Homo sapiens: one gene and its partners. The protein of the gene in region 1 purifies or fractionates together with the protein of each later gene. This does not show direct contact. Each region holds a gene or a part of one and is shown in the gene's direction. Other genes may lie near its edges. The genes, in order: ING1, HDAC1, RBBP7, SINHCAF, RBP1, SIN3A and RBBP4.

What was found.
Region 2: the proteins of ING1 (region 1) and HDAC1 purify together in Homo sapiens (affinity purification with mass spectrometry; 9 studies listed by BioGRID and IntAct, with this or other methods). This does not show direct contact.
Region 3: the proteins of ING1 (region 1) and RBBP7 purify together in Homo sapiens (affinity purification with mass spectrometry; 7 studies listed by BioGRID and IntAct, with this or other methods). This does not show direct contact.
Region 4: the proteins of ING1 (region 1) and SINHCAF purify together in Homo sapiens (affinity purification with mass spectrometry; 3 studies listed by BioGRID and IntAct, with this or other methods). This does not show direct contact.
Region 5: the proteins of ING1 (region 1) and RBP1 purify together in Homo sapiens (affinity purification with mass spectrometry, with the first as the bait; 2 studies listed by BioGRID). This does not show direct contact.
Region 6: the proteins of ING1 (region 1) and SIN3A purify together in Homo sapiens (affinity purification with western blotting; 5 studies listed by BioGRID and IntAct, with this or other methods). This does not show direct contact.
Region 7: the proteins of ING1 (region 1) and RBBP4 purify together in Homo sapiens (affinity purification with mass spectrometry; 6 studies listed by BioGRID and IntAct, with this or other methods). This does not show direct contact.

What each region holds. Positions count from the first base shown.
Region 1 is NC_000013.11:110,720,200-110,723,699, forward strand, and holds the end of ING1 (inhibitor of growth protein 1), read left to right. Parts: 3' UTR 1-3,140; downstream 3,141-3,500. UniProt on the Homo sapiens protein: Cooperates with p53/TP53 in the negative regulatory pathway of cell growth by modulating p53-dependent transcriptional activation. Implicated as a tumor suppressor gene.
Region 2 is NC_000001.11:32,298,583-32,302,082, forward strand, and holds part of HDAC1 (histone deacetylase 1), read left to right. Parts: intron 1-3,500. UniProt on the Homo sapiens protein: Histone deacetylase that catalyzes the deacetylation of lysine residues on the N-terminal part of the core histones (H2A, H2B, H3 and H4).
Region 3 is NC_000023.11:16,856,863-16,860,362, reverse strand, and holds part of RBBP7 (histone-binding protein RBBP7), read left to right. Parts: intron 1-1,513; coding exon 1,514-1,687; intron 1,688-2,653; coding exon 2,654-2,769; intron 2,770-3,500. UniProt on the Homo sapiens protein: Core histone-binding subunit that may target chromatin remodeling factors, histone acetyltransferases and histone deacetylases to their histone substrates in a manner that is regulated by nucleosomal DNA.
Region 4 is NC_000012.12:31,284,651-31,288,150, reverse strand, and holds part of SINHCAF (SIN3-HDAC complex-associated factor), read left to right. Parts: intron 1-366; coding exon 367-517; intron 518-3,500. UniProt on the Homo sapiens protein: Subunit of the Sin3 deacetylase complex (Sin3/HDAC), this subunit is important for the repression of genes encoding components of the TGF-beta signaling pathway.
Region 5 is NC_000003.12:139,536,943-139,540,975, reverse strand, and holds the start of RBP1 (retinol-binding protein 1), read left to right. Parts: upstream 1-1,233; 5' UTR 1,234-1,257; coding exon 1,258-1,516; intron 1,517-2,016; coding exon 2,017-2,195; intron 2,196-4,033. UniProt on the Homo sapiens protein: Cytoplasmic retinol-binding protein. Accepts retinol from the transport protein STRA6, and thereby contributes to retinol uptake, storage and retinoid homeostasis.
Region 6 is NC_000015.10:75,406,691-75,410,190, reverse strand, and holds part of SIN3A (paired amphipathic helix protein Sin3a), read left to right. Parts: coding exon 1-57; intron 58-199; coding exon 200-355; intron 356-3,046; coding exon 3,047-3,136; intron 3,137-3,500. UniProt on the Homo sapiens protein: Acts as a transcriptional repressor. Corepressor for REST. Interacts with MXI1 to repress MYC responsive genes and antagonize MYC oncogenic activities. Also interacts with MXD1-MAX heterodimers to repress transcription by tethering SIN3A to DNA.
Region 7 is NC_000001.11:32,668,208-32,671,707, forward strand, and holds part of RBBP4 (histone-binding protein RBBP4), read left to right. Parts: intron 1-17; coding exon 18-191; intron 192-531; coding exon 532-647; intron 648-764; coding exon 765-925; intron 926-1,023; coding exon 1,024-1,150; intron 1,151-1,278; coding exon 1,279-1,356; intron 1,357-3,500. UniProt on the Homo sapiens protein: Core histone-binding subunit that may target chromatin assembly factors, chromatin remodeling factors and histone deacetylases to their histone substrates in a manner that is regulated by nucleosomal DNA.

The sequences.
Region 1 (3,500 bases):
CGGGAGGAGGGGGACTAAACTCAACCTAACACATTAAATGTGGAAGGAAAATATTTCATTTAGCTTTTTTATTTTAATACAAGTAATATTATTACTTTATGAACAATTTTTTTTAATTGGCCATGTCGCCAAAAATACAGCCTATAGTAAATGTGTTTCTTGCTGCCATGATGTATATCCATATAACAATTCAGTAACAAAGGTTTAAAGTTTGAAGATTATTTTTTAAAAAGGTAAATGGTTAAATTTTACATGACAGATATTTTATCTATTGGCCTGTTCCCCAAATGGCCATTTTAAAATGCTTGGGTACACTTCTCTTAAGTGGTCTAGTCAAGGAACCTCAAGTCATGCTTTTGCTATCACCAATCATAGTGTACCCATCTTTAATTTATATCAGGTGTATAAATGTACATTTCCAAATGAACTTGCACTTGTTATATTATAATTGGAAGTGCAGTCAGCAGATGCTGTTGTGAAGCTAATGTCACAATTATGTGCAAAGGTGTGCTTCCTGCTGTATGTGAGCTGTAAAAATGTTACGTGAAGAAATAAATGAAACTTGGCCAGTTTGTTCCTCTAGTAGTATATTTAATTTTGACATAAGTAACTTTTAAAATTTGTCTTAAAAATTTATACACCAGCAATTTAGACAAAGCCTTAAGCAAATTTTGTATTATTGTTCTCACTTATTATTAATAATGAAGTAGAAGTTACTTAATTGCCAGCAAATAAATACGTGTCAAAAAAGAATCTGTATTCAGACCCTGGGTCAGGAAATTACTGCCCACTTGTCAAGTTCAGCCCACCATCTGTTTGAAGATTATATGAAGTTTAAATTCTAGTGTCCATAAATAAAGTTTCAGCGGAACACAGCCGTGCTTATGTGCGTATGTATTGTCTGACTGCTTTTGCAAAACGGCAGAGTTCAATAGTTGCACCTGAAACCATTTGACTTGACAAGCCAAAACTATTTTCTGGCCCTCTGCAGAAAGGGTTTGCTGACCTCTGATTTAGACTAGCATCTAACATTGATTTGCCCACATATTGAAAGGGTCAGTGGAGTTTTCATTTATTATTTTTTATTTTTTTGAGATTGAGTTCCAGGCTGGAGTGCAATAGCGCAATCTTGGCTCACCGCAACCTCCGCCTCCCAGGTTCAAGCGATTGTCCTGCCTCAGCCTCCCCAGTAGCTAGGATTACAGGCATGCACCACCACGCCTGGCTAATTTTGTATTTTCAGTAGAGACGCGGTTTCTCCATGTTGGTCATGGCTGGTCTCGCACTCCCGACCTCAGGTGATCCACCTGCCTCAGCCTTCCAAAGTGCTGGGATTACAGGTGTGAGCCACCGTGCCCGGCTGGAGTTTTCATTTTTTTTTTTTTTTTTTTTTCTGAGATGGAGTCTCACTCTGTCTCCAGGCTAGAGTGCAGTGGCCCAGTCTTGGCTCACTGCAACCTCTGCCTCTCGGGTTCAAGCGATTCTCTTGCCTCAGCCTCCCGAGTAGCTGGGACTACAGGTGCGTGCCACCATGCCCAGCTAATTTTTGTATTTTTAGTAGAGATGGGTTTTCACCATGTTGGCCAGTATGGTCTCGAGCTCTTGACCATGATCCGCCCACCTCGGCCTCCCACAGTGCTGGGATTACAGGCGTGAGCCACCGTGCGCTGAGTGATACGTGGTTCCCTTTAACTTCGCACATGGTAAAATCAGTTTCTTTCCATGATCTGTTTCACAGTCTCTGTGAAGCTACCTACCACAAAGAAGTAGTGAGTGATGACTTTCTAGAATCTAAGTATATGGCATGTATTTATTATAAGTAAAACATTAAGTTTGCTGATTGTTTACTTGTGATAAACAATTATTGTGAACTTTATTTGTGCTGGACATAAGTGTCTGTTTTACAGTGAAATTCCATTATAGAGGGTTACTTGGTAGAGAAATGCAAATTGTAGTTGGTCATATACTAAAATTTGAACTTTTTACATATCAATACTTACAAATAGGTGTTTATTTTCCCACAAAACTCCAGAACATTTAAGAGTCTCGGGTGTTTAAATTTGATGAGATTTACCCAAACAAATAGTGAACAAAAGGTTTATGAAAATAAGTTATGAAACTAAAATACTTAATAAACATCCAGTGACAATAAAAATAGCTTGAGTCTTTGCTTATATAAAATTTCATGCTAATTTTTCACTTCTATATTAATTGGAGGTAATAATGCAAATTAAGTTATAGAAATGAAGATTCAATGAAATGCAGTTGCTCATCCTGGATTTCTTCATATTCAGTTTTGGTGTAGACAACTGGTGAAGAGAGATGGCTCAGAGGCCAAGCCTTGCAATCTAGGAGCCCAGCCCTGTCCTTTAAGGGCTTGATCTTGAATAAATTGCTTAACAGTTGGTCTATAGTTCTACACTTTTAAAGTATGTTTCACAGAGGGTGGTTCCAATAAATAAATGCACTGGCATATTCAAATGTTGGATAATTTTTCTCTAGCTTTCTTCAAGTTTCTCATAAGGACAGGTGGGTAGCCACTTATTCTTTAAAAAAAAATAGATACAATACAGAGTCGTGTTGGACTGGCAGTCTTAAATCACTCTTGTTATTTCCAGTGGACATTAAAAAAAAATCACAGATAAGTACTTAAAACACTCAAGATTTGGGATTTAGATCATGATTAGATACAATAGAAAGATCCTGGAATCCCGACATGAGGACAAAAATGGTACTGAATTCTTTTTGAAAAATAGATTACTGAAAAGCGATCTAATATAGAACAGTTGCTTTTACTTAGATGTTCAATGCATATTTGTTGTATAATAACCAAGTTATTACAGTTCAGATAAAGGGTCCAAAGTGTTTTCGTTATGATATAATACTTTCTATTGTAAACTGGACTAAAGAAACGTTGTATGTTCAAGGAAGTGTTGAGCAGCCATGGTGTTCCTGGGACAGGCTCCCCAGGTGCTGAGAGAGGTGCTGCAGGAGTCACAGACCTGCAGGCACGCACTTGCCAGTGACTGGGACGTTGGCTGGTGGTTCTCTTTTGGTGTGATTAGAGCTATGTGAGTTGTCTCAATACTTGAGACTGTCGGTGGTTGCCAATGCTGAATAAAGCATTTATCAAAGTAAAAGCCATTTCCTCTTATTATATATTATTTTAGAAAGAGTACACATTTAGTTGTGATATCCTTTTGTAGTTCACATTTATGTAGTGTTCCAGGTAATAAGTTACCTGGAACTTACCTGAACACTTCAATATTTCATTAAAGTATTAAATCTTTTTCTTAGGCAAAATGATTAAGAGCTTCATCTGTGCACTTCTAAAGACATGATGTGCTCTCGAGGACATCTAGCTTTTTTCCTTCTATCTAATGTAATTTATGGCTCTAGAATCCTTGGCATATATGGAGAGAGGTTTTATTGATACTGTCTGCCTCCCTCTCCATTTTAGCGTGTAGAATGTGCCTCTTTCATCGCAGAGTCCAGGCAGT
Region 2 (3,500 bases), on another chromosome or scaffold:
GCTCTGCCATTGAGAAGCTTTGTAATATCAGGCAAGTCACCTTACATTTCAGATTTCTCTCCTATAAAATCAAAATGATAGGAGTTCCTATTATGAGAACAATGATGGGAAAGCTCTTTAAGAGTTTAAAGTATGGCTGGCGCCATGGCTCACGTCTGTAATCCCAGCACTTTGAGAGGCCGAGGTGGGCGGATCACTTGAGGTCAGGAGTTCAAGACAAGCCTGGGCAACATGGTGAAACCCTGACTCTACTAAAAATACAAAACTTAGCCAGGCGTGGTGGCACATGTCTGTAATCCCAGCTACTCAGGAGGCTGAGGCAGGAGAATTGTTTGAACCTGGGAGGCAGAGGTTGCAGTGAGCCTGAGATCGCACCACTGCACTCCAGCCTGGGTGACAGAGTGAGACTCTGTCTCCAAAAATAAAAATTAAAATTAAGTAGTACCTAAATAAAAAGGACCATTTCTTTTAAAGTCTCTCAGCAACCTGATTAAGATATAGAGATATATCTTTATTTTAATTACAGTAAATTTAATCATAAAGGATGCAGTCACCCAAGAAGTTATATAGAAGAGGATCCAGGGTGGAATTCTAAGGAAGTGGACAGTGTCCCTCATGCTGTGTGCTCCCCTGTCATAGCATTTGTCAATGTGTATAGGAATACACACAGCACGGGTTGGCAAACTAATTAAAAACTGTTAAGAAAAGGATGGTTGGCCTGCACTGTTGGAGGCTCACATCTGTAATCCCAGCACTTTAGAAGGCTGATCAGGAGTTTGAAACCAGCCTGGGCAACAAAGCAAGATGCCATCTCTACAAACAAACAAACAAAAACATCAAACAAAAAAAAACATAAAAAGAAAAGGATGCTGTCTCAGAGCCCCACCCTCACTACCCTCACCTCAGATACTCCCTTAACCTTCTGGATAAGATATCTTAGTCCCCCAGGTCTGAGCCTTGGCTGGATCTAGGCTTGATAGGCAAGGGAGTTGCTAGGGATCAAGGCTCATGCCTTTTTTTCACTGGGTGCCTAGAGCTCTGCCTCATCCTAATAAATCTCTAAGGAGAGATCTTTGGGTGTGTAGTTCACTTGATTTTGCAACATTGTTCAAGGAATTTTCTATCAGGTAGACTTATAGAGCCCTCTAGATTAAGTGCAAACTGAAGTAGGTACCTGAGAAGCCCAATGTAGGGCCTGGCACGGTGGCTCACACCTGTAATCCCAGCACTTTGGGAGGCCGAGGTGGACGGATCACGAGGTCAGGAGATCAAGACCATCCTGGTTAACACGGTGAAACCCCGTCTTTACTAAAAGTACAAAAAAAATTAGCCGGGCTTGATGGCAGGCATCTGTAGTCCCAGCTGCTTGGGAGGCTGAGGCAGGAGAATGGCGTGAACCCTGGAGGCGGAGCTTGCAGTGAGCCGAGATCGCACCACTGCACTCCAGCCTGGGCGACAGAGCGAGACTCTGTCTCAAAAAAAAAGAAAAAAGGAAAATCCAATGTAGCTTTTAGCATATTGGATTTGGAGTCCGAAGAGTGGACTCCAGATCAGTCATTAGCTGTGTGATCTTGAGCAGGCACTTAACTTCTCTGAGTCTCAATTCAATTCATTGAATCTTTATTGAGCCTCTGTGATATACAAGGCATATTAATCCTTGCCTTCAAGGGGTACCCAGTCTTGTGGATATAGTCATGTAAATAATTCAGATATAAAACAATCCTAGCACTTTGGGAGGCTGAGGTGGGCATATCACTTGAGGTGAGGAGTTCCAGACCAGCCAGGCCAACATAGTGAAACCCCACCTCTACTAAATATGAAAATTAGCTGGATTTGGTGGCACGCACCTGTAATCCCAGCAATTTAGGAGGCTGAGGCAGGAGAACTGCTTGAACCTGGGAGGCAGAGGTTGCACTGAGCCGCCGAGATAGTACCATTGCACTCCAGCCTAGGCGACAGAGTGAGACTCCGTCTCAAGAAATAAAAAAAAAAAGAAAAGAAAACTAATGAAGTGCTGTATACAAATTGCATGTAGAGGAAAAGACCATTTATTTTGATCAAGAAAGGGTTTGGAGCTTGAGGTGGGCTTTGTAGTATGAGCATCATCAAAGAAAGGAGGACATTTCAGGTCAAAGGAATAGTCTGCACAGAGGATACTGTGGTGTGAAGGTGAATGTCATGTTCAGGATACTGATCATAATCTGGTGTGTCTGGAGCACAGGTTGGCAAACTTTTTCTATATAGGGCCAGATAGTAAATATTTTAGGCTTTATTTTGCCATATGCTTGGGTGTCTGTGGCAACTAAACTGCTCAGCTCTGCCACTGTAGTGTGAAAACAGCCATAGAGGAACTGTAAACGGATGGGCATGGCTGTGTTCCAATAAAATTTTATTTACCAAAACAGGCAACTAGTTGTATTTGTCCCAAGGGCCATAGTTTGCCTACTCCAGTCTAGAGCAAAGAGAGAGAGAGAGTGAGTGTGTGTGTGTTGTGGGAAAGGGTGGTAGCAGGAGATGAAGCTGGAAAGGCAGGTTAAGAAAGTCCTTGGATGAAGCTGGAAAGGCAGATTAAGAAAGTCCTTGGCCGGGCGCGGTGGCTCATGCCTGTAATCCCAGCACTTTGGGAGGCCGAGGCGGGCAGATCACAAGGTCAGGAGATCAAGACCATCCTGGCTAACACAATGAAACCCCGTCTGTACTAAAAATACAAAAAATTAGCTGGGCATGGTGGCAGGCGCCTGTAGTCCCAGCTACTCGGGAGGCTGAGGCAGGAGAATGGCGTGAACCCTGGAGGCGGAGCTTGCAGTGAGCTGAGATCGCGCCACTGCACTCCAGCCTGGGCAACACAGCGAGACTCTGTCTCAAAAAAATAAATAAATAAAGTAAAAGAAAGTCCTTGAATGCTGGCCAGGCGCGGTGGCTCACACCTGTAATCCCGGCACTTTGGGAGGCCGAGGTGAGTGGATCAACTGAGGTTAGGAGTTTGAGACCAGCCTGACCAACAAGGTGAAACCCCTTCTCTACTAAAAATACAAAAATTAGCCAGGCATGGTAGCACATGCCTGTGATGCCAGCTACTTGAGAGGCTGAGGCAGGAGAATTGTTTGAACCCAGGAGGCGAAGGTTGCAGTGAGCTGAGATTGCACCACTGCACTCCAGCTTGGGCAACAGATCGAGACTTGTCTCAAAAAAAAGAAAGTCCTTGAATGCCAGTCTTCTGAAGTTATTATTATTAAATGTTGAGACCCAGCCTGGTCTTGAACTCCTGGGCTCAAGTGATTTTCCTGCCTCAGCCTCCAGAGTAACTGGGATTACAGGCTCATGCCACCATGCCTATCTCTATTAAAGTTATTCTTTACTCTTTATCCTGTAGGGGATGGGGAGCCATAAGGATTTTTTGAGCGAAGGAGTGATGTTATCAGAATTGTGGATTAGGAAAATAACTCTGGTGACAGTGTGGCAGGTAGTGTGAATTGAAGGTAGAGGGACCAATTAGAAGG
Region 3 (3,500 bases), on another chromosome or scaffold:
GACTTTTCAAAATTTTAAGTTTGAGAAAACAAAACTCTGTGTTCAAAGTAAATCCTACTTGGAAGCCCCGCCCCCCCCCCTTTTTTTTTTAAAGGAGAGCTCTTCAGGTTGTTTTAGCTAAAGGAATCAGGAAACTTGAGTATCTTTGTAGCAGAAGGGTTAGAGCCACTGGAGTCCATGGAATGGGATGTTGAAGGTCAAAGTGGAGCAGATTTGGAGCAGTCTCAGGAGGGAGGAGACGATTGGATCAGGAGGGGTCTTAGCATGCCGAGGCACATTTCTTCCATTGACACCATGGAACAGAAGGTGCTACGAGGAAAAAGGATCCTTTTGCATGTGGTCACATGAGAGTAGTGGGTAGAGGAGCTTTGGAGTAATCGTGGATTTGAGATACGGTTTTTTCAACCACACTGAAATAGTAAGCTATGTTTGCTTCAGAGAGGAACGGCTAGATACTGATATTAAGACATGGAAGCGAGTGTTCATTAAGCATTCCACATAGAAGGAGCTGCCTGGAACTGAGAAATGGTTTGCTCCTTTTGGTGGTTGCTCCAGGCCCCGGTCTATTTTACTTCTTACCTGTCTGGCTCCAGTAGGCATTTGTGTTAGTTGTCCCTGACCTGAGACACAGGGTGAGCTAAAATGGAATGTGCAAAGAAAAGGCAATATAGGTCAGGAAGAATAACACAATTGTAATGTGAACCCTCCTATCTTTTTAAGCGTCAGCAACTAATTCAGGTTTTTTTATCTATGAGCACAAAAAAGAATGTTCTTGTTTGCTGTATTTGCTTAGATGTTCTCTACTTGTATTCTTTCTGCTAACATGTTGCTACTTCTTGGAAGTTACCGTACTTTTTATATGACTTTGTTACTTTACAAGGCCTTTTTCATGATTATTTAATACTATAGTCTTATTCACACACCAGATGGGCGGAGAGGTTAACCTTGGCACTGCACTAGCAGTTAAACCAAGTATGCTGGCAGGGCCAATGTATGTGTGTTTAGGGACAGGTAGGGGTTAGCGTGGGTTTCTGATTGATTTGAGGATGCTTCTGACTTCAGACTCAAAGGGTGTTCATACTGTGGAGGGTTAAAACCTTTCCTGTTTTGATGAATCCTAAAATAAGATGCTAATTCAGTGCAGTACTTACAGTGAGTTGTATTTGAACTAAAAAGCTATTGGTCTGCTTATTATATGGTTACTTGAAATTTCAGTGAATAACTATATCATCTTCATAACTGAAAGAGGACAGTTGTTTTAGATCCAAGGTGGAACTGAATTAAGTTGCATAAGGCAGCTACCAATATTTTCCAGTGCAAATGGGCTTTAAGAATAAATTGATGTGGCAAATGAACCCACATTTTTGGGTTTTCTCTATGCATGTTTCTGTCTTTGTCTTGTCAGTTTGTGTTGTATTCTGCCAGGTCAAAATCTGTTAGGTTGATTGAACTAAGTGATTTGTGAATTTTAATCCTGAGTGTGTGTGTGTGTGTTTCTTTCTCCTCACATTAGAATTTGGTGGCTTTGGTTCTGTAACAGGAAAAATTGAATGTGAAATTAAAATCAATCACGAAGGAGAAGTAAACCGTGCTCGTTACATGCCGCAGAATCCTCACATCATTGCTACAAAAACACCATCTTCTGATGTGTTGGTTTTTGACTATACAAAACACCCTGCTAAACCAGGTATGTAATAATAGAGTTAGGTCATTACTTGAGCAGTTTTCTTGATTCAAACTGGTAATGTTTTTAAGGTCAAAGTAGCATACTTTATAATATTTAAAGGTTTAAAAATTGCTTTGGGGGTCCCATAACCATCCTCAAGTTCAGGGATTTGCCAGAACTACCTAAAAGCAGCTTATACTAACAGCTAAAGTTTATTACAGCAAAGAATCCAGAGCAAGAGTAGGAAGAAAAAGATACACATCAGGGGAAGTCCAGAGGGGTTAGCTACAGGCGTCTGAGTCCTTCCCATCCAGGGCCACGTGGGACATGTTTTGTCTCTAGCAGCAAACCATAGGAACATGTGCTAAATGTCTCTACCCAGGGCAGCCCATTTGAGTTTCAGAATCTGGGATTTTTGTGGAGGTCTGTTGGCGTGGGCACATCCTGTTCTATGACCAGCCATGGTAACAAAATTGAGGACCCCAATAGTGAAGCCAAATACATTGTGAATCTTGCTAAACAATCCTACAAGTCTTGACAGGTCCCTATGGCATACCCCACTGCTCTGGGCTTACAAAACTTTATCAGTCAGTGACGTGAAGAACTTTCTGAGGGTCACATTCCCAGGGGTTGGCCAAGGGTCATTTATGGTTGCAGGCTACCCTAGAGGCATGCAAGGACTGAGCAACCAGACCTGTTGTGTTAGAAATATTTCTAAAAAATTGGGGGGTTGCGGGGATACGGTCACCACTGCCCAAATTTGTAGGATAGCTATAGTTTTTAATATTTTTGTGTTGGGGATAGTATTAGGTTTTCCAAAGAAACCAATCATCTAATGGTCATGAGGCTCAATTTGCATTGGGTATTAAAGACCAGATCTCGTTCGTGTGCAGTTGCTGTAATGGTTCACTCAATGAAGGAGTGAGAATTTATTCTCACCAGTTCTGATAAACAGAGAATAACTTAATGTTTTTCATCTTTTCTTAGACCCAAGTGGAGAATGTAATCCTGATCTCAGATTAAGAGGTCACCAGAAGGAAGGCTATGGTCTCTCCTGGAATTCAAATTTGAGTGGACATCTCCTAAGTGCATCTGATGACCATGTGAGAAACGTATTCTTTGTAATTTGTTCATATAGTGAGAGCTGACGTGTCACAGCTGTGCTGAAGGAGTACTATATAGATGAAAGGTTTTCTAAGATAATACTGCTGATTATTGTGGTAACATTCCCCCAGGACTTTAGAGAGATGGTTTTCATACTGCCCTGTATGAGTCTTCGGATTCCACAGAGCTCTTTTGAAGTAGCCTTAGAATGGAGGGAGCATAGGCAAAAGGCCTCCCATTATTTAAAAGAGGACCCTCCAGGCCCTTAAAATGGAAACTGTAGAGTGTTTGTGGGACCTGATTAATATAAAGTATTTTTTAAGTGTACAGTTCAGTGGGTTTTAGTATATTCACAAAGGTGCACAACTATTGCCACTAATTCTAGAATGTTTTCATTCGCTCTCTGAAAGAGAAATTCCATACCCATTAAGCAGTGACTCCCCACTCATTCCCTGCCTTCCCCCAGCTCCTGGTAAGCACTAATTTATTTTCTGTCTCTATAGAGTTATCTGTTCTTGGTATTTCATGTAAATGGAATCTCATATATGGCCTTTTCTGTTTGGCTTCTTTCACTTAGCATAATGTTTTCAAGTAACATTACTTATGTTCCATTCCTTTTTATGGATGAACAATATTCCACTGTATGGATATACCACAGTTAGCTTATTTGTCAGTTGATGAACCATTTGAGTTCTTTCTACTTTGGGGCTATTTTGAATTATGTTACAAG
Region 4 (3,500 bases), on another chromosome or scaffold:
TGGGGATTATGAGGCAAAAGGAAAATCCAGAAAAACTAAGGAACCTACCACCATGGCTTGCCTTGGGTCTTGAGCTCCCTAGATGATCATCACCTTTTGGAGTCTCAGGTTTGTTTTATATATAATATCCAGGGATTTTAGTTGTATAAGCAGGAGGAATAGGAAGTATGTCTATTCCATCTTCTTCACTTCTTTAAAAAACACGTTAGTCTGAATATCTTCAAATATCAGTAGTGCATAGAAAATGAATTATTTTTTACTTTTTCTTTTTTACCAACTCTTTCACAGTGTCTTATGCTGAGGTTTAGTTGCAATTACATGTAATGAAATTGAAAATTTTATTTTTTCTCTTAATCTTTATTGCAGATTCTGATGCTCACAGTACCACCTCAAGTGCCTCCCCAGCTCAATCTCCTTGTTACAGTAACCAGTCAGATGACGGCTCAGATACAGAGATGGCTTCTGGTTCTAACAGAACACCAGTTTTTTCCTTTTTAGATCTCACTTACTGGAAAAGGTAAAAGAAACAAAGTATCTCTCTAACCAGCAAACCATCTTAATTATGGGCAGTATTTTTCTACTTCCTTAGCAATTAAATGGCATTTGGCAAACAGTTGGTAACACACGATTGCAGTGGATTAAGCAGGAATTGAGCAGGGAAGTGGGATTTTTGTATGTTCTTCCTATTAAAATTTATTTAAAATAAAAATCACATCAAGGTACCTACATTGCCTATTGCTAGATAAGTGGAGTAGAAAGACAATATGCAGTGGAGAGAATCAGTAAAACTAAGAGTTGGTCCTTCAAAAAGACGTGACCAAAAATATACTAGAGATAAAGTGGATCAGGAAAAGGAGATAATACACATAAGCAATTTTAGGAAAGAGAAAAGAGACTTAGGTATAGATAAAGCAGACATTTAAAAAATAATAGGATATTATAGACAACTTGATGCCAATAAATTTGAACATACAGGTGAAGCAGGTACAGTACTAGAAAAAAGACATGTTGCTAAAGCTGTCTCAAGAAAAAGTGAAAAACGGAGATAATCTCATAATAAATTGATTCAGGCCAGGTGTGATGGCTCACACCTGTAATCCTAGCATTTTGAGAGGCCAAGGTGAGGGGATTGTTTGAGCCTAGGAGGTTAGGTTTGCAGTAAGCTATTTTTGCACCATTGCACTCCAGCCTGGTGATAAAGCAAGACTCTATTTAAAAAAACAAACAAACAAACAAACAAACCACAATAGGCAAGTTGTACTAAACATCCAGGAACAGATGATTGGAGCCTATGCACTGGCTTTTCCAGACTATGGATAAAATAGGGCATAGGCCCCAAGCATTTTTAAGGCTGATATAAGTTTGATACCAAAACAAATATATCATCAGCCACTAGGGTTATTCTAGGTATGTAAGATTGGTTTGAACATGAGACGATCAACTAATATAATTTACCACATTGACAGTTTCTTTTTTTTTTTTTTTTTTGAGACGGAGTTTTGCTCTTGTTGCCAAGCTATAGTGCAATGGCTCGATCTCTGCTCACTGCAGCCTCTGCCTCCCGGGTTCAGTGATTCTCCTGCCTTAGCCTCCCGAGTAGCTGGGATTACAGGTGCATGGCCACCACACCTGGCTAAATTTTTGTATTTTTAGTAGAAAAGGGGTTTCACCATGTTGGTCAGGCTGGTCTCGAACTCCTGACCTTAGGTGATCCACCTGCCTCAGCCTCCCAAAGTGTTGGGATTATAGGCGTGAGCCACCGTGCCCAGCCCACATTGATAGTTTCTAAAGGAAGGTGTTGTCTTCTTAGTGGTGCAAAGAAGGAGTTTGACAAATTTGAACATTCCTTTAAGGTTTAAAAAAAAAAAAGTTTTAGCAAAATAGGAATAGAAGGAAACTTTTTTACTTAGACAACAGGTATCTTACAAAAAGGACAAAAGTACATAATACATAATTGTGATAAAATGAAAGCATTTTCTCTATGATCAGGAACAAATCAAGAGTGTTGACTATCACCATTTCTATTCAGCATTATACAGAAGGTTCTAACCAATACAATATTGGTAGTAGTGTAGTAGTAAACACTTTAGAACAGTGCCTAGTGCATAGTGTAAGTACTTTAAAGTACTTTAAACCACTTTGTTTGCATTTATTTAATCTTTTTTTTTTTTTTTTTGAGACAGAGTTTCACTCTGTAGCCCAGACTGGAGTGCAGTGGTGTTATCTTGGCTCACTGCAATGTCCGCCTCCTGGGCTCAGGCAATTCTCCCACCTCAGCCGCCCAAATAGCTGGGTCTACAGGCACGCACCACCATGCCTGGCTAATTTTTGTATTTTAGTAGAGATGGGGTTTCGCCATATTGGCCAGGCTGGTCTTGAACTTCTAGCTTCAAGTGATCTGCCTGCCTTGACCTCCCAAAGTGCTGGGATTACAGGTGTGAGTTACTGCACCTGGCCTTATTTAGTCTTTATGACAATTCTGTGAAGCATTATGTGAAAACACAGGTACAAAGAGGAAGTACTTTGTTTAAGGTTACATAGTAAGTAGAGCAGGATTTAAATCTAGGCAGTTTGGCATTAGAATGATACATTTTATCATAGTGTTAGGAAATATAAAATAATGTAGTAAAATATCAAAAGCCCTTTGGAGGAGTTATGTAAAAATCATACAATATTGTCGAATAACATTTATTTATGTGTGTGTGTGTGTGTGTGTGTGTGTGTGTGTGTGTATGTATATATATAAATATATGTCTATGTTGAGAGAGAGAGACTCACTCTGTCACTTAGGCTGGAGTGCAGTGGTGTGATCTTGGCTCACTGCAACCTCCGCCTCCTGGGTTCAAGCGATTTTCCTGTCTCAGCCTCCGGAGTAGCTGGGATTACAGGCATGCACCACCACACCCTGCTAATTTTTGTATTTTTAGTAGAGATTGGGTTTCACCATGCTGGCCAGGCTGATAGTGAACTCCTGACCTCAGGTGATCTGCTCGCCTTGGCCTCCCAAAGTGCTGGGATTACAGGCATGAACCACTGCGCCCGGCCGTTGAATAACATTTAAAGACACCTAAATAAATTGAGAGGTATAGCACATTCATAGATATTATTAAACTGACTGTTAGGGAGATGATCACTTTGTAGATTCAGGGTAATTGCAGTCAAAATCCCAACATATTTATGGAACTTTACAAGCTAATTTATAATTTATATAGAAAAGCAAAGGGCCCAAAATAGGCATCTTCAGAAGAAAAAGAAAGATGTGGATAAACTTGCCCTAACAGAAATCAAGACATATTATGAAGCCATGGTAATTAATGTGTTTTGGGACTAGGAATAGAAAAATAAACCAATGGAATAGTATAGAGAGCCTGGAAACAAGGCCACATATGTATATAGCACTTGTTATGTGATACATGATGTGGGGGTGATTGGTGGGCGAAAATGGTCTGTTCAATAAGTGTTGCTAGGATATTAAGAACAACATGGTTATTCATGTGGAA
Region 5 (4,033 bases), on another chromosome or scaffold:
ACCCTGGGGAAGGTGGTGCTAGAGGGGAAGAAAATGTTATCTGCTGTCACTTAGGCTGTGATTTGTGCAAAAAGCGATTTAAAAGAGGTAGTCAAAAAGAGGGTCAAAAAGTCAGCCCATGTGATTATGTCATCTACTTGGTGGCAAATGCAGTTAAACCACAATGACATACCCACGCAGGTGACAAAGGAGATGTGATCAAAGATTTTCATTGCAGTACTGCTTTTAATAGTGAAAGATCAGAAACAATATAGTTTGTCCATCAGGGGACAAGCTGGATAAGCAATGGAATACTCCGTAAAATAATGGGGATACTTTCTATGTACAGCTATGGAAAAGTCTCCAGAATATATTAAGTGAATAAAGCAAAGTCCAGAACACCGTGGAGTACAGTGCTGCCATTAGGTGAAACGGGAGGAAACATTAATAAACAGTATATTGCTTACATTTGCATAAAGCAGCAGTGGATCTCAAAGTTGATTGTGCATCAGAATCACCCAGAAGGCTTTTTTAGCCACATGCACTTCAAATAACATCAACTATTTTACTTATTTATTTATTTATTTATTGAGCCAGAGTCTCACTCTGTCGCCCAGGCTGGAGTGTAGTGGCACGATCTCGGCTCACTACAACCTCCTCCTCCCGGGTTCAAGCTATTCTCCTGCCTCAGCCTCCCGAGTAGTTGGGACTACAGGCGCCCGCGACCACGCCCGGCTAATTTTTTGTATTTTTAGTAGAGACGAGGTTTTACCGTGTTGCCCAGGCTGGTGTCGAATTCCTGACCTCAGGTGATCCGCCCGCCTCGGCCTCCCAAAGTGCTGGGATTACAGGCGTGAGCCGCCGTGCCCGGCATCCTTTCTTTTATTTTCGGGAGAGACGTGGAAAGTGCCCCAATTTTCTCGCCCGTAGTTGAACCTCCCAGCTTTCCTGACCCCAGCCACCACCGGCGCGAGGCTTTAGACAAAGGCCTGTAAGTGGCCTCTTTCCTTAATCACGCCAGCACAAACCCCAGGAGATTGTTTCCCAACTCCCGAGTGGCTGCTGAGTGTGAGAAGTTAATGGCGTTTGAAGGAAATCCCCAGCAGCCGAAGAGTTCGGCCAACAAAGCAAACGTCCCGTCTCCGGTCTCCTCTTCCTTTGTAGGGGAAACGAACTGAACGTCTGAAACGAAGGTGGCGCGGCCTGGACAAACCTGACCCTTCGACATCCCCCGCCCCTGCGCCCGCCCTCGCTAAGCGGGGAGGAGCGACCGCTACAATGGATCCTCCCGCAGGCTTTGTGCGCGCTGGGAATCCAGCTGTCGCCGCCCCGCAGAGCCCCCTGTCCCCGGAGGGCGCTCATTTCCGGGCCGCCCACCACCCGCGTAGCACCGGCAGCCGCTGTCCCGGCAGTCTCCAGCCGTCCCGCCCGCTTGTGGCCAACTGGCTCCAGTCACTCCCCGAAATGCCAGTCGACTTCACTGGGTACTGGAAGATGTTGGTCAACGAGAATTTCGAGGAGTACCTGCGCGCCCTCGGTAAGCGCTGCCCGCTGCGCCCTGGGCGCCCCGCCGAGCAGCTCCGGGCCGCTCCCTAGAGCCCTCCCGAGACGCTGCCTGCCTGCCTCCATCCCGGCGAGCCGCGGTCCGGTGCCCCCGGACGCCAGAAAGGGCGTCCTCGGCCACCGCTCCCAGGGCAGCCCCCAGGCTGCAGATTGGAGAATTCGGGGTTGTTAGGTTAACCGGTGGCAAATGTCTGCTCGTTGGCCCTGGAGGTGGGTAATTTCATTAGTAAATCTGGGGCTTGGTTTGCTACTTTTTGTTTTTAAACGGTTAACATAAGAGCAGAAAACTTTGTTGGGGGCGGCAGGGGAGGCACAGGCAGGCTGTGCGCAGAGACAACGCAAAGCCAGCGGGAACCCTAACAGTGTTCGCGGGCGGAGAGGGCTCCTGGGGCCCCGCTACCTTGGGAACGGTTCTCTGAGTTTCCCTGCCAACTCTCTGGCGCTCTCTCTCTCCCCGTTCAACCCCCACCGCAGACGTCAATGTGGCCTTGCGCAAAATCGCCAACTTGCTGAAGCCAGACAAAGAGATCGTGCAGGACGGTGACCATATGATCATCCGCACGCTGAGCACTTTTAGGAACTACATCATGGACTTCCAGGTTGGGAAGGAGTTTGAGGAGGATCTGACAGGCATAGATGACCGCAAGTGCATGGTGAGGATTCGCGTCCACCTGGTGTCTCCTGCCCAGGGGGCCTGACCAAGGGCTGGGCTAGTTCATCCGAGAGGGGGCAAGGGCCTGAGGGACTGAAAACTCTTCCCACTCTCAGCCCCCATGGTGGGCAGCACCAACTCATGAAGCATCCTGCTCTATCTACACTGGAAGGTGATGGTTATGAAGGCTGCCATGTGCTGTGTCTCCACTGCGTTCAGGCACTCTGCCCGGTGCTTTATGCACATGACTTCACCTAAGCCTCACACAGCCTTTGAGGGAGATATGAATATGCCCATTTTACAGATGAAGAAACAGTCTCAAAGAGATGAAGTAACATGTCCAGAGTAGCACAGCTAGGGAGGGTCTGGAGTTCAAAGCATGTCTGTTGATGCCGTTCTCTGGCTGACTGGGCTGGTGGAGGGTAAAAGAAAAGAAAGGAGGAAAGAAAAAAGAAACACAGGTAACCCCTTTGAAGTGTAAACTTTCAGTATGACTTAGTGTGAAGTCACTCCAGGAAGCTGGGGGCCCCTTGATCTCTGCTGGAAGCCCCCTGATCTGCCCATCCTTGCCCCAGAGCTGGGATTTGGCTCCTGGCCATCCCCTGCCCCACCCTGTCATCCAATGCCTACTGAGCATTCTTTGAACTTTGCAGCTGACACCTATTCAGTAAGTCAGGGCCCCTCCAGCCCAGACCAGAGGAAACAGCAGTGGGGGAAGAGGGAGGGCCAAGAGCTCCCTTCCACAAGGGTGGGAAACTCCTGACCCAGGACATCCCAATTAGTACTGCCACAGCAGATGCCGGAAGGCCAGCCCCAGGCCTCCATCAACATTATCTGGTTGCTGGGAGGTCAAGGTACTCTTGTTCTCCCTTTATAGTCTTGGGTTCAGAAGTGGCTTATGTTCATCCCAGGAGCCACCTTGCTTATTGATGGGGTCCTCACCCACCACCTCCCACCATTTACCAAGGGTCTTTACCGCTGGTCTGCTGTGTGTCCAGCACTGTGCTAGTCATCTTACAGCACAGCACAGTGAGGGAGGGATAAGTAACCCCATGTTATGCAGTGACTGAGGCTCAGACAGAGGAAGAGACTTGTAAGAGATGAGACTTGAGCCCTGGGCCTTCTGATGTTGAAGCCCACAGTCCTGCTTTCTGCCAGCTTCTCTGCTGGTAGTCTGTGCAGAAACAAGATAGCTGAGGTCTGTTAGGATTGTAGTTGAAGGGATGCCCATGTCTGGGAATAGGCATCTGGAGCCTGGATGACTCATCCCCCCACCTTGTCTATTCATCTGAAGGCAGTCAGGATTGGTATCTGAGTCTGCTGTTTGGAATGATGGGAAAGAGGGGGTAGTCAGCAGGGAGTGGCCTTGGAAGGACCACTAATGGGAGAAAACACCATTGTTGCAGAGAAATGTCAGGTTGTGCCTTTAAAAATCTCAAGGACTCTTAATCTGCAGGAAAGACTCACAATAGGAAAGGAGACCTTCAGATGGCATCTGCCTTTCTCATTACTGCCCAAGACCTGCTCCCCGGCACACTGCATGGAACTTTGCTCCTTAAGAATAATCCTTACCCCCACTCACTATTGTGGAACTCACAGATCACATCGAACCTTTATTTTGGGTCACCACAAATCTGGCATGTGCTGGCTTGTACTAATTATCTTCACTCTTTCCTTCCTTTCTTCATCCATTAACACATGAAACATTTATTGATCACCTAGTAATACTAGCAAATGCAGTACTCATCAAGTGCTTACTGTCATGCCAGATGCTATTCAAACGTTACATTAGCTGACTTAATCTTCACAACACCCTTTCAAGCCTCATTTTACAGATAA
Region 6 (3,500 bases), on another chromosome or scaffold:
CAGGAAGATTTGTTGTCAGAGTTTGGACAATTCCTACCAGATGCCAACAGCTCCGTGGTATGTTTTTTTAATAAGAATTACACTATTTACTATTATTATCTTAGATGAGTTGGAAAACTGTGCTCAGAAGGGGACTTTTCCTAGATGATATTTGTTTGCTTTGATAAGAGCATTAATCTCATTCATGTGTCTTAATCAGCTTTTAAGCAAAACAACTGCTGAGAAGGTTGATTCTGTGAGAAATGATCATGGAGGCACTGTCAAGAAGCCCCAACTGAACAACAAGCCGCAGAGGCCCAGCCAGAATGGCTGCCAGATCCGCAGACATCCTACAGGAACCACCCCTCCAGTTAAGGTGAGAATGGGCAGCAGCTGCTCATTTTGACACTCACAAGTATTTCTAATGGAGAGGTACTCTAGAGGTGGTCATGTGTTTTGTTGTTGTTGTTTTTTTTTGTTTTTTTGAGACCGAGTCTCGCTCTGTCGCCCAAGCTGGAGTGCAGTGGCACGATCTCGGCTCACTGCAACCTCTGCCTCCCGGGTTCAAGCGATTCTCCTGTCTCGCCCTCCCGAGTAGCTGGGACTACAGGCGCATGCCACCATACCGGGCTGATTTTTTTTTTTTTTTAGTGGAGACGGGGTTTCACCGTGTTAGCCAGGATGGTCTCGATCTCCTGACCTCATGATCTGCCCGCCTCGGCCTCCCAAAGTGCTGGGATTACCTGTGCCCGGCAGTCATGTGTTCTTAAGTGTGTTAACGGTTGGGTCCTAGATATTTGGAGGAAGTTAGTATTGTGTCACAGAAACTCAGTGCAGAGTTTATCTGGCTTTGCAAAAGAGTATTAGAATAACATTGATTGCTTGGATTACTGTACTTTTCTGAGTTCTTTATTATCTCTCCTTTGCAATGAGCTGTCATTTCTTTAATGTTTTGGTTGCTACTAAGAATTTCCAATACTTGAAATTTTTTTCCCTTCTTTTTTTTTTGAGATGGAGTCTTGCTCTGTCGCCCAGGCTGGAGTGCAGTGGTGTGATCTCAGCTCACTACAACCTCTGCCTCCCGGGTTCAAGCAATTATCCTGCCGCAGCCTCCTGAGTAACTGGGACTACAGGCGTGTGCCACCACGCCCAGCTAATTTTTGCATTTTTAGTAGAGATGGGGTTTCGCCATGTTGGCCAGGCTGGTCTTGAACTCCTGACCTCAGGTGATCCACCCACCTCGGCCTCCCAAAGTGCTGGAATTACAGGCGTGAGCCACCGCGCCTGGCCCCTTCTTCTTTGATGCTTTAAATCTGCCTTGTGTTAAGAAAGAACATTCTTGAGCTTGAGAATTATTTCAGAAATAAGTGGTCTCTGAGGTCCTCTTGTGAGTAGAGTGCATGTGTTTTTTGAGATCTCTGGTCTAGAACCCTGTCCTGCTCAAAGTTCTTTGTTGGGTTACCAGATCTTATGTGTATCATCTTAATCTCCAAGGCAGGACCTTTGGGCTGTAGCAGAGGGAAGTCTTAAACTCCTCTTAGTAATCCATTACATGATGTTTTTTGTTATAGTTAACACTGATGGTCTGCCTGCAGAAAACTTAGCTTGCTCCCTTCTTTGATGTAACACAGCTATGATAGGGAGAGGGCTAGTTGTATGTATTGAATGTTTAATTCTTCAGTGAATTTCAAAGCAGTATGTAATATAGAAGAGACAGATATGTCTGCAGAATTAAATAATGACAAAAGTTTGGGAATTTCTAATAGTAAGAGGTGGCTGATGAATAGTGATTGACTGACTACAAGGTCTGACGTACTAGGTGTTACTGACACTTTTGAAGTATCCTTTTCATTAGTGTTTGTCATGGTTTCTTCTTTTGAAATCTTTTGAAATCAAGTTGAACATAATAATGGTTTCTATTTCTTCATTTCAATAAAGAGAATTAGTTATATGGGTAGCAAGAATCAGCTCAGTAGATACACTCCATGCTTGGATTTACGTCCGCCCACTCTTGATTACCTACAGGTGGCAAGAATATAGTGGGGGCTTAAAATTCTCCGCCTACTTTCTCCATAGGCAGTGTAAGCAGAGGCTGCGGCTCTTAAGAAAGTATACTCTGAGATAGCCAAGGTAAATGTGCTACTTCTCACAAAGTTTGTGCATTTCTTCATAGAGAGTAAGTGGTGGATTTTAAAAGTAACTTCTTGCCTGACAGGATTATATCATGGCCTGTTGGTTCCCTTTAGAAGAACAATATTAAATTAGTCTGAGTGGATATTGCTGGCGTGCCTTTTTTTTTTTTTTTTTTTTTTTTTTTTTGAGATGGAGTCTCACTCTGTTGCCCAGGCTGGAGTGCAGTGGCGTGATCTCGGCTCACTGCAGCCTCCACCTCCTGGGTTCAAGCGATTCTTCTGTCTCAGCCTCCTGAGTAGCTGGGACCATAGGCGCACACTACCACGCCCAGCTAATTTTTTTGTATTTTTAGTAGAGACGGGGTTTCACCATGTTGGCCAGGATGGTCTCAATCTCTTGACCTCATGATCTGCCCACCTTGGCCTCCCAAAGTGCTGGGATTACAGGCATGAGTCACCATGCCCAGCAAATTATGCTTTTTAAGTAAATTTTTAATTGAAATATTATTCAGGGTTAAAGATTGATTTCTGTCAATTTGTGAGCTCTTTTTACAAACAGCCTTTTCTCCCTCAGCTGGTAGGAGAACAAAACAGTGGCATTAGATTCTACATGAAGTTACTTTGGGCCCCTAGAAAAAGTAAGGATATTCTAAAAGTTTGTCACAGTAATGTCATGATCATTTCTGGAGAAAATATTTTGGGGGTAGAATGATCTTTGAACCTCTGTTGTAGAAAGAAACTTAATAGGCAAACTGAAATAGAAAATATGAGTTGAAATCTTAGAGGGTATGGAGTGAGTTGGTTAGAGTTCTCTCATTTGTTTCAAATTATTAATCAGCAGTGGTTTCAGTGATGAAACCATTGAATACAGACAAAAATAAAATTCAGAGAAAACCACTCGTTGAATCTCACATGTTTGTATCTTTCTTTTGCAGAAGAAACCCAAACTGCTCAATCTGAAGGATTCTTCTATGGCAGATGCCAGCAAACATGGTGGTGGAACAGAATCGTTATTTTTTGATAAGGTGAGTAATGGATGAGTTAGATTTGATAGTGCCTGTTAATGCCAAAAGAAAATCATCTTATCCCCCTGGAAGGTTTCGTTTTAAAGGTGTCAGGCTAATTAGGACTTTCTGTTTTTTAACATAGTTTCCCAGTTGTGAGTCCTTTGAGTCTGCTAGTACTATTAGCATAGCTAGAAAAATGGTAGCATTGTTTGCTTTGGTTTTATGAAGCAGTTTGGGGCAGAAGACAGATTTTTAGAAAATGTATTATGTTTCTCTTGAAAGATGTTTGGAGCTCCCATTGTAGATATCCAGGTCTGTGTGGCAGGCAGTACCAGTGCCTGTACCAATTTTTGAGGATTTAAGATGACTTGTAATCTTTTTT
Region 7 (3,500 bases), on another chromosome or scaffold:
AATTAATTTATTCACAGAATTTGGAGGTTTTGGTTCAGTTAGTGGAAAAATTGAAATAGAAATCAAGATCAACCATGAAGGAGAAGTAAACAGGGCCCGTTATATGCCCCAGAACCCTTGTATCATCGCAACAAAGACTCCTTCCAGTGATGTTCTTGTTTTTGACTATACAAAACATCCTTCTAAACCAGGTATGTGCCCTTTTCTATTCAAATACAAATGAGTCACTATAGAAATACATGGTTCCACTCACTGTGAGTTTAATTGCATGTTACTCTGTGTAATTTAACATCTTGTGATTTGTATTGATATGTGTATATTTTTCTTCATTTTGCCTCCATGAAAAAATAATGCTTTTTTACATAGAACAAAATACTGGTGCTGTTTAAGCATTATCTATTTGATCATAACGGTTCCTATATCATTTATAAATGTTAAGAGCTTTAGACATCTTGACCAAAATTCCATTATGCTCAGTAGGCCCAGAGAGCCAGTGGACTGGGTAGTCTTGATGTGTCTGTCACTTTGCAGATCCTTCTGGAGAGTGCAACCCAGACTTGCGTCTCCGTGGACATCAGAAGGAAGGCTATGGGCTTTCTTGGAACCCAAATCTCAGTGGGCACTTACTTAGTGCTTCAGATGACCATGTGTGTATCCTTCCCATTTTGAAGCAAATCTGGGCTAGTTACCAGTTGGTTTCTTTTTTGGGGTGTGTGGGGAGGTGAGAATCTTCCTTTTATATAATGGTTAATTTTACATTTAAGACCATCTGCCTGTGGGACATCAGTGCCGTTCCAAAGGAGGGAAAAGTGGTAGATGCGAAGACCATCTTTACAGGGCATACGGCAGTAGTAGAAGATGTTTCCTGGCATCTACTCCATGAGTCTCTGTTTGGGTCAGTTGCTGATGATCAGAAACTTATGATGTGAGTAGAATCCATTCAGAGTTTCTAAATATCTTGTCTAAGTTTTATGTTTAGTCACCATTTCAAGGTTTTTTTCCTTTGTTTTTTTTTCACTGAAGTTGGGATACTCGTTCAAACAATACTTCCAAACCAAGCCACTCAGTTGATGCTCACACTGCTGAAGTGAACTGCCTTTCTTTCAATCCTTATAGTGAGTTCATTCTTGCCACAGGATCAGCTGACAAGGTCAGTTTCGTTTATTTTAATAGAAAACATAATTTCTCTAGGTTTTTTTGAATTGCAGAGATATTTTACTTACAGTATTTTTTTTTTCTTAAAAAATTGATTACTCTTGCTTTTCTTTTTGTACATAGACTGTTGCCTTGTGGGATCTGAGAAATCTGAAACTTAAGTTGCATTCCTTTGAGTCACATAAGGATGAAATATTCCAGGTAAGAGAAACTAATGCTACTATTTTGTTTGTTTTAAGAAAAACCTGCTGGGCGCGGTCGCTCACGCCTGTAATCCCAGCACTTTGGGAGGCTGAAGCGGGCGGATCACAAGGTCAGGAGATCGAGACCATCCTGGCTAACACGGTGAAACCCTGTCTCTACTAAAAATATAAAAAATTAGCCGGGCATGGTGGCGGATGCCCGTAGTCCCAGCTACTCGGGAGGCTGAGGCAGGAGAATGGCATGAAACCCGGGAGGCAGAGGTTGCAGTGAGCCGAGATTGTGCCACTGCACTCTAGCCTGGGCGACAGAACGAGAGTCCGTCTCAAAAAAAAAGAAAAAAGAAAAACCTGGATGTATGAGTGGGCACACATGTGCTTTATGCCGTTGCTAAAAATAGAAATCTATATGCCTATGCTACTTTCTGTGGGAATTGTTTTTTCTTTGTTATTTCTATACTTTCTCAAACTGGTTATTGACCACTTACATTCTTCAGATATTAAGAAAACTAGGCCAGGTATGGTAGCTTATGCCTGTAATCCCAGCACTTTAGGAGGCTGAGATGGGTGGATTGCTTGAGGCCAGGAGTTTGAGACCAGCCTGGCCAACCCTGTCTATTTTTTAATAAAAATTTACAAAGAAAGGAAAACTAGTGCCTGATTATTTTTTCAGCCTTGTTTCTGACACTTAGTGATCTCTTCCCTTCTTCCAATATATTCTTCATCCTTCATTACTTGCCACATGTGTTGATTTCTCAACCCAAGCCTCAACCTCTGGCTCCATATTTTCTACCTCATCAGTTTAAACCCATTTATGCCTAGTGTTCCATTATTGGAACGCTAAGCATGTGGGAGTTTATATCCTGCTCAAGGTTATCGCCCAGGTCTGATTGCAAAAATTAAAAAAAGAAATAATCACTGCACTATGTTCAAAGCTTGTTGCTACGGCACTATGAAAGATTACGTTATGTAGCCTTTGCTATCAAGGAGCCCCCAATTTTTTTATTTTTTTTTAATTAATTTTTTTGAGACGGCATTTTGCTCTTGTTGGCCAGGCTGGAGTGCAATGGTGCAATCTCGGCTCACTGCAACCTCCACTTCCCAGGCTAAAGGGATTCTCCTGCCTCAGCCTCCCAAAGTGCTGGGATTACAGGCGTAAGCCACCACGCCCAGCCGAGCCCAAAATTTTATAGTGAGGGAGGGCTTGTTTAGAAATTACTATAATAAAAGATTTTGTCAAGTGTTATGAACCTGAGGGTGGTAAAGATTAATTCTGGTGTGTGAAGGTGGCGTCTGAACTGGGCTTTAGGTGAGCCATACTCCTACATACTTAGTCTCTTATTTTCTACTTTTCAGCCCACCTTGGTGAACATTTTATCCTTACCCTATCTCTTTGCTTTGCTTGTGACGGTATTCTTGCCTGGACAGAATCCAAATTCTTCCTTAATTGCTGGTCACTAATGCCCTCTTTTTCTGTACCTTAAGGCTAGGTAGCACTTTTACCATATTTGGTAGCAAACTCTGATTGTTGGATATATAGTAGTAAATTTTTTGTCTGACTCTTTAATAAAATTATTGCATGGAGTCATTTTTAATCAGACTTATATGTAATACAGAACTCATAGTAAATACTTGGGGACATAGTTATTGTATATGTCATCTGTACTTTAGTTCTTAGGTCAGAATTGGATTGCATTTGGGTAGAGGCCAGAATTAGCAAATAAGAATAGACAAGATGTAGGCCGGGCACGATGGCCCATGCCTGTAATCTCAGCGCTTTGGGAGGCCGAGGCGGGTGGATCATGAGGTCAGGAGTTTGAGACCACCCTGACCAACATGGTGAAACCTCGTCTCTAATAAAAATACAAAAATTAGCCAGGCATGGTGGTGCACGCCTGTAATCCCAGCTACTTAAGAGGCTGAGGCAGGAGAATCGCTTGAACATGGGAGGAGGAGATTGCAGTGAACTGAGATCACCCCACAAGAACAGACAAGATGTGATGTTTCCAAAGATAAAATGATGCTGGGCACATGGCACACACCTCCAGCTACGCAGGAGGTTGAGGCAGCGAGATCCCTTGAGCCCAAGAGTTCAAGTCCAGCCTAGAAGCAATATAGCGAGGCCTCATCTCTTTTTTTTTTTGA